Homo sapiens: one gene and its partner. The protein of the gene in region 2 purifies or fractionates together with the protein of the main gene of each other region. This does not show direct contact. Each region holds a gene or a part of one and is shown on either strand. Other genes may lie near its edges.

Region 1 (3,138 bases), about 190 Mb from region 2:
ATCTACCTGTGTATTTCCGGTCCCCACAGGGTCAGTAAGGGTGTTTAGACTTAGAAGGTTGGTACATACCCAATCCATGCAGGAAGAAAGAGCACTGGATGGGGAGGCAGACGGCCTAACTCTAGTCCTACCTTCCCACTGACCTGACAGTGATCTGGGGCGAGTCACTCCCCTCCCCACCTGGGGCTCAATTTCCCCATCTGTATAAGGGGATTAAACTTGATGGTTTTCAAGTCCCTTCCAGTTTCATGATCGGCCTATGTCTATGTCTCAGTCCCAACTTCCAGCCCTGTTTTACAGAAGGGAGGGCAAGGCACAGAGAACCTGTTCTTGGCTGTCTCAGTTGTCTGCTGCACCCATCCCCTCCATGCACAGGTTTGTGACCAGGAATGCACCTTAGAGTCACTCGCAGAGCTTCTGAAGAAACACACAGCCAGGCCCCACCACTGAAGATGCTATCTCTGTCTCAAACAAGCCCAGTACTCATGTTTTTTTAAAAAATAACATAAGGTGACATTTATTGGGTGCTTACTATGTGCCAGGCACTGTTCCAAGCACTTTTATAGCATAACTTGCCTCAGAGGTCAGTAGCTATTCACAGGCACAATCATGGTAAACCACAGTCCTGGGGACAGGACCCAGATGGAAGCCCAGGCAATAGGGAGCTGAAGCCTGTGGGCTCCCCCAGCGAGGCCACTGGAAACACAGAGGGTTTCCAGGCAAAAAATAAGTGAATTCTACAGCTTGGATTTCATGTTTTCAAACACACAGTGTGATCTTTTTTTACGGCTAACTGGCCACCCTACAGTTTTCCACCTTGCCGCCCACTGACTCACTGCAACTTTTGAGTGAAATCACCCACAGTCTTTGCTCGGAGGGCAGCCGTGTTCTGAACCACACAGCCCTAGCCCTTCCCTGCCCACTGGGCAAGGCTGACTGGACCAGGGCTGACACCTGCTATGGTTTGAATGTGTCCCCAAAAGCTCATGTGTTGAAAACCTAATCCCCAATGCAACAGTATTGAGAGGTGGGACCTTTAAGAAGTGATTAGATTATGAAGGCTCTGCCCTCACAAATGGATTGCCATTATCATAGGAGTAAGTTCCTGATAAAAGGATGAGTTTGGATTAGTCAGGTGTGGTGGTGTGTGCCTGTAGTCCCAGCTACTCAGGAGGTAGGAGGATCACTTAAGGCCAGCAGTTCCAGGCTGCAGTGAGCTATGATTGCGCCACTGCACCCCAGCCTGGGCAACACAGTGAGACCCTGTCTTTTAAAAAAAACAGATGAGAGGGGCCGGTCGCGGTGGCTCACGCCTGTAATCCCAGCACTTTGGGAGGCCAAGGTGGGTGGATCACCTGAGGTCGGGAGTTCGAGACCAGCCTGACCAACATAGAGAAACCCTATCTCTACTAAAAATACAAAATTAGCCAGGCATGAGTGGTGCCTGCCTGTAATCCCAGCTACTCGGGAGGCGAATGCAGGAGAATCACTTGAACCTGGGAGGCGGAGGTTGTGGTGAGCTGAGATCGATCGTGCCATTGCACTCCAGCCTGGGCAACAAGAGCGAAACTCTGTCTCCAAAAAAAAAAAAGGCTGAGCTTGGGCTCCCTTTCTCTTGCCCTTCTGCCTTTTGCCATGGGGTAATACAGCACGAAGGTTCTTGTTAGATGCTGGCGCCAGCCTCTAGAGCTGTGCGTCAAATAAACTTCTTTATAAAATTACCCAGTCTGAAATTCTGTGATAGTACCACAAAACAGACTGAGACAGAACCTGGCCAAAGGGCAGCCGGTCTGTAGCCAGCTGTGGCCTCTGATGTGCAGGCATGAGAAGGTGAGCTGGGCCAATGCGACACCCTCTCAGGAAACTGTGCTGAGAAGTGCTGGGAGGCAGGCGGGTGGCTGAAGCTGGAAGTGTGCTGGGAGGCAAAATCCAGGCCAGAGTGAGCCAAAAGCAGCAGCAAATGCGAGCAGGAAGAGGAACGAAAGCCAGAGCTTTGAGTCAGAGAAAACCTCCACAGAGCCGAAGGAAAGAACAGGCTGCTAGAGAGCAGAGCAGATTAGCAGCTGACATCGCGAGAAAGATGGAGAAGAAATGAAGTCCTCACAGCTGCCCACGTTCCAACGGCTTTCGCTTTCTGTTTCCTGGGAAGGTTGAACGCAGGTACCTGCTCATGGGTTCCTGTGCATCCTTAACTCCCACAATGTCCCTGTGTAGCCTACAAATAAAGCCTGCTCCTGAGGTGGCCCGAGTCAGTCTACTCCTTGCAACTAAGAGCCAAACTAGCCCCTAGGCTCACACTGAAAGGACAGGCATATGCTGGTCCCTTTCCTTCTCAAATGACTAGGGTTGCTCTCTGCCAATCACCTCTTTGTGAGCACATGCTACTTCTGGCGTGTCAGCTCTGAGGCAGAGCTGAGGGTCACCAGCCCCACGTACCTTAGGACAGGTCCTTGTGCAGTTCATGATGGTGTGGCAGCGGTATAGAGAGAATGGGTCCTGCAGCTTGGCCAGGCGCTCCTCTGTGAAGTCATCTCTGGAGTCAATCATCCAGCGATAGGCCTGGAAAACCAGGGATGATTAGCTGAGCTGCCAATCAACAGGCCAGAGCGGCACCCTGGCTCAACTCAAAGCTCTGGGAGTGCAGAGGAAAGGGAATTCACTCAGCTTAGATGCCTCATCTCCATACTCTTTAATTCTTGTCCATCTTTCAAGGAAAGGTTCCCAACACTTGTAGCTTCACTTGATTAATGGTCCCTGCAAACCTTTGATCCATACTGCACCTGGTACCCGGGTGCTTAATTATACACACTGGGTATCATCTCCTAATTATTTCACATTGCTCAATAGCTTCCTACCCAGCTTATAATTTGGTGAAGGCAGGGACTGTATCATATAACTCTTATCTGTCTTCATGGCACCTACCCATGCTGGACTTGCTGTCTCTGAGTAAAGGAATGATTTAACAGACCTGTCTACAGATAGTATTTGTCCCACTTAATGATTCTTTGAACTTACACAGCGCTCTCAGCAGCCTGAGATCAGCAGGCTGAAACGAGTTAATCACATGACCATAGGCCTGCTCTAGCAGTGTTACTTAGAGGACCTCTACATCCCCAACTCGGAGCAGCTGGCAAAAGT
Region 2 (4,233 bases):
TTTTTTTCTATAAATAACAGATAGTAAATATTTTAGGCTTTGCAGGTCATTCTGTCTCTATATGCCAATTATTACTCAACTCTGCCATTGTACTGCATAACTTGATAAGCTAACCAATGGTTATGGCTGTGCCCCAGTGAAGTCTTATTTACAAAAATAGGAGGTGGATCAGATTTGGCCCATGAGCTGAAGTTTGCTCATCTCTGCTCTAGACCATTCTAGCTCTGGTTCACATTGCTACATGAGTGGCTGTCCGGGCTTGGGGGGGATTTTCAGTGTATGTATGTTGAAGAGGGAAAAGGAGGGCTGCTCACCTGTAACTTCAAAGTTGTGTCACCCAATATGATAATCTTGGAGAGGATGCTGGCCCCCAGTGTGGTCTGGTATTCCTCATAAAACGTCTTGTGCACATATTGGTGAAGGAGGGAGGTCTTTCCCACACTGAGGAAAATTCCAGACACATGTGAACACACACATGCAAACACACATGCACATGCTTCCCTACCATTCTCAGAATCTTCCCAGGCCCCTCTTGCCACTGTCTCTCCCTGAGATTCTGAATTTCAAATTTCTGTGGTCCATGGACCACACTTTGAATAGCAAGGGAGTAGGAAATGGTTTCTAGAAGTAGAAGCCAATCAAAGTGAGCAGAGTAGTCTGGAGACGGTGGAATATCTCACAGTGGTGGTCAGGTTTTTTCTGTGTGTGTAGGACATGGGAGGACAGATAGATGCTAAATGGCTTGCCTAATTCACACAGCTGGTTACTGCAGAGTCACTGCAGATCTAGGACTGGAAACCATCTGTTTACATGCAGCTTCTTTGTCCCAACTAAGCTTCTTTTCTGGGGATGGGATACAGTTGCTGGTGTCACCCTGAATCAGAAAGGGACCTATGGGAGATGGGAACACATCAGGAGGTCTCACTGTCCTTGGGTGAGGGGCTGCTTCCCAACTCCCAGAGCTGAGCTTGGCTTACCCAATGGCTCCGACGATAATGAGTTTCAGGTCCACCTTCTTCCGGGGATTCATGGAAGGGCTTCAGAGCCTGTAAGGAAACAGAGGTCATCCACATGCTAGCCAATGTTCCTTGTGGCCATTGTCACTGAGTGTGGCCTCTGCTTTCCCCTTTCCAATGGGCAAGTTACTGCCCTGGGCCCGGGACTGGGTGGGGTTCTCCGAAGGAGGCACGTAATTCAGCAATCTTCATATATCTTCTCCCTCACTTTCCCTGGGGGCCTCCCCAAAGCTGGAAGGGTGGTGACTCTCCAGGACAGGCAAATCTCTCATCCCTCAGCTCTACCAACCCTGCTCTTGGAGGCAGCCTGGAGTGCCAAGAAGGCAGGACAGGATTAAACAGAGGCCTCGCAGACAGCCCAGCCTGGAGCCAGGGATGGAGGGGCATGCAGGAAGAAGAGATGGGGGTGGGCAGGACAAGGGTTCCATTGTCACGACTGCCCAGAGGCTTTGGATGGAAGAGTGCCCCTCCCCCAGCCCGAGGTCTAGCTGCAACTGCAGAATCAAAAGGCTCCTCTCTAATGCAGCTGGCGGGGGTGTAATTCATACATGTTTCTGGAAAGCTATTGGCAGCAAGTGTTGAGAGCCTTAAAAATGTTCCTGCCCTCCACTTCTAGGAATTTGTCCTAAAGAAATTATCCGAAATGTGGGTAAAGACTCTTGTCCAAGAATGTTCTTCACTGTACTGTTTATAAACATCCAACACTAAAGCAGTGGTTAAATCATAGCACACAATGAATTATTAAGCAGTCATTAAATGGAGTTTTTGAGAATATTACAATAATATGGGAAAATGCTCATGCCCTAGGATCTAAATAGGATCCTAGGATCCCTTAAGATCTAAATAGAAAACAGAAGATGGTACATTCTCAGCAAACTATTGCAAGGAACAAAAACCAAACACTGCATGTTCTCACTCATAGATCGTAATTGAACAGTGAGAACACTTGGACACAGGAAGGGGAACATCACACACCGGGGCCTGTCACGGGGTGGGGGCAGGGGGTGGGATAGCATTAGGAGATATACCTAATGTAAATGATGAGTTAATGGGTGCAGCACAACAACATGGTGCATGTGTACATATGTAATAAACCTGCATGTTGTGCACATGTACCCTAGAACTTAAAGTATAATAATAACTTAAAAAAAAACAACAGAAGATGGTAAACTGTACACACAATACCACCCAACACTTAAATGAGTTCCCACTTGTATAGAAAAACGCCTGGAAGGAAATATATTAAAAATTCCAGCAATTCCACTACAGGATATATAGACAAAGGAAATGAAATCAGTATGTTGAAGAGATGTCTACACTCCCAGGTTCACTGCAGCTTTGTTCACAGTAGCCAAGATATGGAATCAACCTAAGTGTCCATCAATGGATGAATGGGTAAAGAAAATCGGTACATGTACACAACGGATACTGTTCAGCTTTAAAAAAAAACTTACAATTTATGACAACATGGGTAAACCTGGAGGACCTTATGTTAAGTGAAATAACCCAGGCAAAGAGACAAATACCATATGATCTCACTTATATGTGGAATCTAAAAAAATTGAACTCGTAGAAGTAGAGAATAGAATGGTGGTTACCAGGAGCTGGGCTGGGTGGGCAGTTGGGGAGATGTTAGAGGATAAAAAATTTCAGTTAGCTAGGAGTAAATTCAAGAGATATATTATACAGCATGGTGACTATAGTTAACAACAATGTATTGTATTCTTGAAAATTCCTAATAGAGTTTATATTAAGTGTTCTCACTACTAAAAAATAAGCATGTGAGGTAATGCAGATGTTAATTACCTCAATTTAGCCATTCCACAATGTGTGCATATTTCAAAACAACAGGTTGTACATGGTAAGTGTGTACAATTTTTATCTGTCAATTAAAAAATGTAAGTTATTCTGGTTGGTAGGAAATTACATTATTTTAATTTTTTTCTCTATGCTTTTTAATACATTCTTTTTTTTTTTTACAATAAATATGTCTTGTTCCTATAAGAGAAATGTAAATGTATAGTGTGTGTGTGTGTGTGTGTGTGTGTGTGTGTGTGTGTGTTTAACAAGGTAAAGCAAAACTGTTGTAGGATACATGCTTAACTGGCCCTTTGTTTCACCCATATATGCACATATGCATATGCACTATCCCCAATTCCTGGTTCTTTTGTCTTTGGATGCACTAAGCATGCTGAGTAAACCTTGACTTGACTCTGCTCAGATGAGGTGTCAAAAGTTGGTCAGCTTGTGTTTCCCCTGCTACTTGGAAAAAGCTGTAAATAGGACATCCTGAGGCCTTGGTTCTGGTTCTCACTTTGTGACCTTGGGCCAGTTACTTCCCCTCTCTGAGTCTTGGCTTTCCAACTGGAGAATGAGCCAGCTGAGCCCCAAAGACTCAAGATGCCTTCTTGGTGAAAAATGCTTTATCTGCTGGAGCTGGACCTCATTGGCCATGAGAGCTGTGCTTGGGACACAAAGTTAAAATGGGAAGCCCCCAGAGATTTAGGATTGTTAGTGTCCCCTTCATGAACCATGTCATGGACTGTATTCATCTGTTCTCATGCTATAAAGAACTGCCTGAGACTGGGTAATTTATGAAGGAAAGAGGTTTAATTGGTTCCGCATGGCTGGGGAGGCCTCAGGAAACTTACAGTCATGGGTGGATGGGGAAGTAAACACATCCTTCTTTACATGGCAGCAGGGGAGAGAAGTGTAGAGCAAAGTGAGGAAAAGCCCCTTATAAAACCATCAGATCTTCTGAGAACTCACTCACTATTATAAGAACAGCATGGGGAAACCACTCCCATGATCTAATCACCTCCCACAAGGTCTCTTCCCCAACACATGGGAATTACAATTCAGATTACAATTCAAGATGAGATTTTGGGTGGGGACACAGCCAAACCATATCATAGACCAAAGGCGATTTGAAGCTCTACTCAGAGCTGTTTGTCCTAGGACCTGGAGTTGGTGGCACTGGAACTTCTGCTCTAACCCAGGAATGCTGGGTTGGCATGGTGAGAAATGGGTCTTCTTGATGGTTCACACGTTCATGCAGCAAATGCCTACATGCCTACCACATGCAAAGCCTTGCACTAGACACTGGGAACAGCACAGAGATGGAGCAAATAGGAACCCACCACACGGAGTCACCAAGGAAGAAAGGACAGTGGCTGAGTGATGACACCAGAGAGAAAGTACACAGCACCGCAGGAGA

Evidence for each region. The genes of interacting proteins can lie anywhere in the genome.
Region 1: the proteins of RAB7B (region 2) and SDHB purify together in Homo sapiens (affinity purification with mass spectrometry; one large-scale study listed by BioGRID and IntAct). This does not show direct contact.

What each region holds. Positions count from the first base shown.
Region 1 is NC_000001.11:17,020,172-17,023,309, forward strand, and holds part of SDHB (succinate dehydrogenase [ubiquinone] iron-sulfur subunit, mitochondrial isoform 1 precursor), read right to left. Parts: intron 2,560-3,138; coding exon 2,437-2,559; intron 1-2,436. UniProt on the Homo sapiens protein: Iron-sulfur protein (IP) subunit of the succinate dehydrogenase complex (mitochondrial respiratory chain complex II), responsible for transferring electrons from succinate to ubiquinone (coenzyme Q).
Region 2 is NC_000001.11:205,993,106-205,997,338, forward strand, and holds part of RAB7B (ras-related protein Rab-7b), read right to left. Parts: intron 1,353-4,233; exon of another isoform or gene 1,047-1,352; 5' UTR 1,031-1,046; coding exon 978-1,030; intron 442-977; coding exon 315-441; intron 1-314. UniProt on the Homo sapiens protein: Controls vesicular trafficking from endosomes to the trans-Golgi network (TGN). Acts as a negative regulator of TLR9 signaling and can suppress TLR9-triggered TNFA, IL6, and IFNB production in macrophages by promoting TLR9 lysosomal degradation.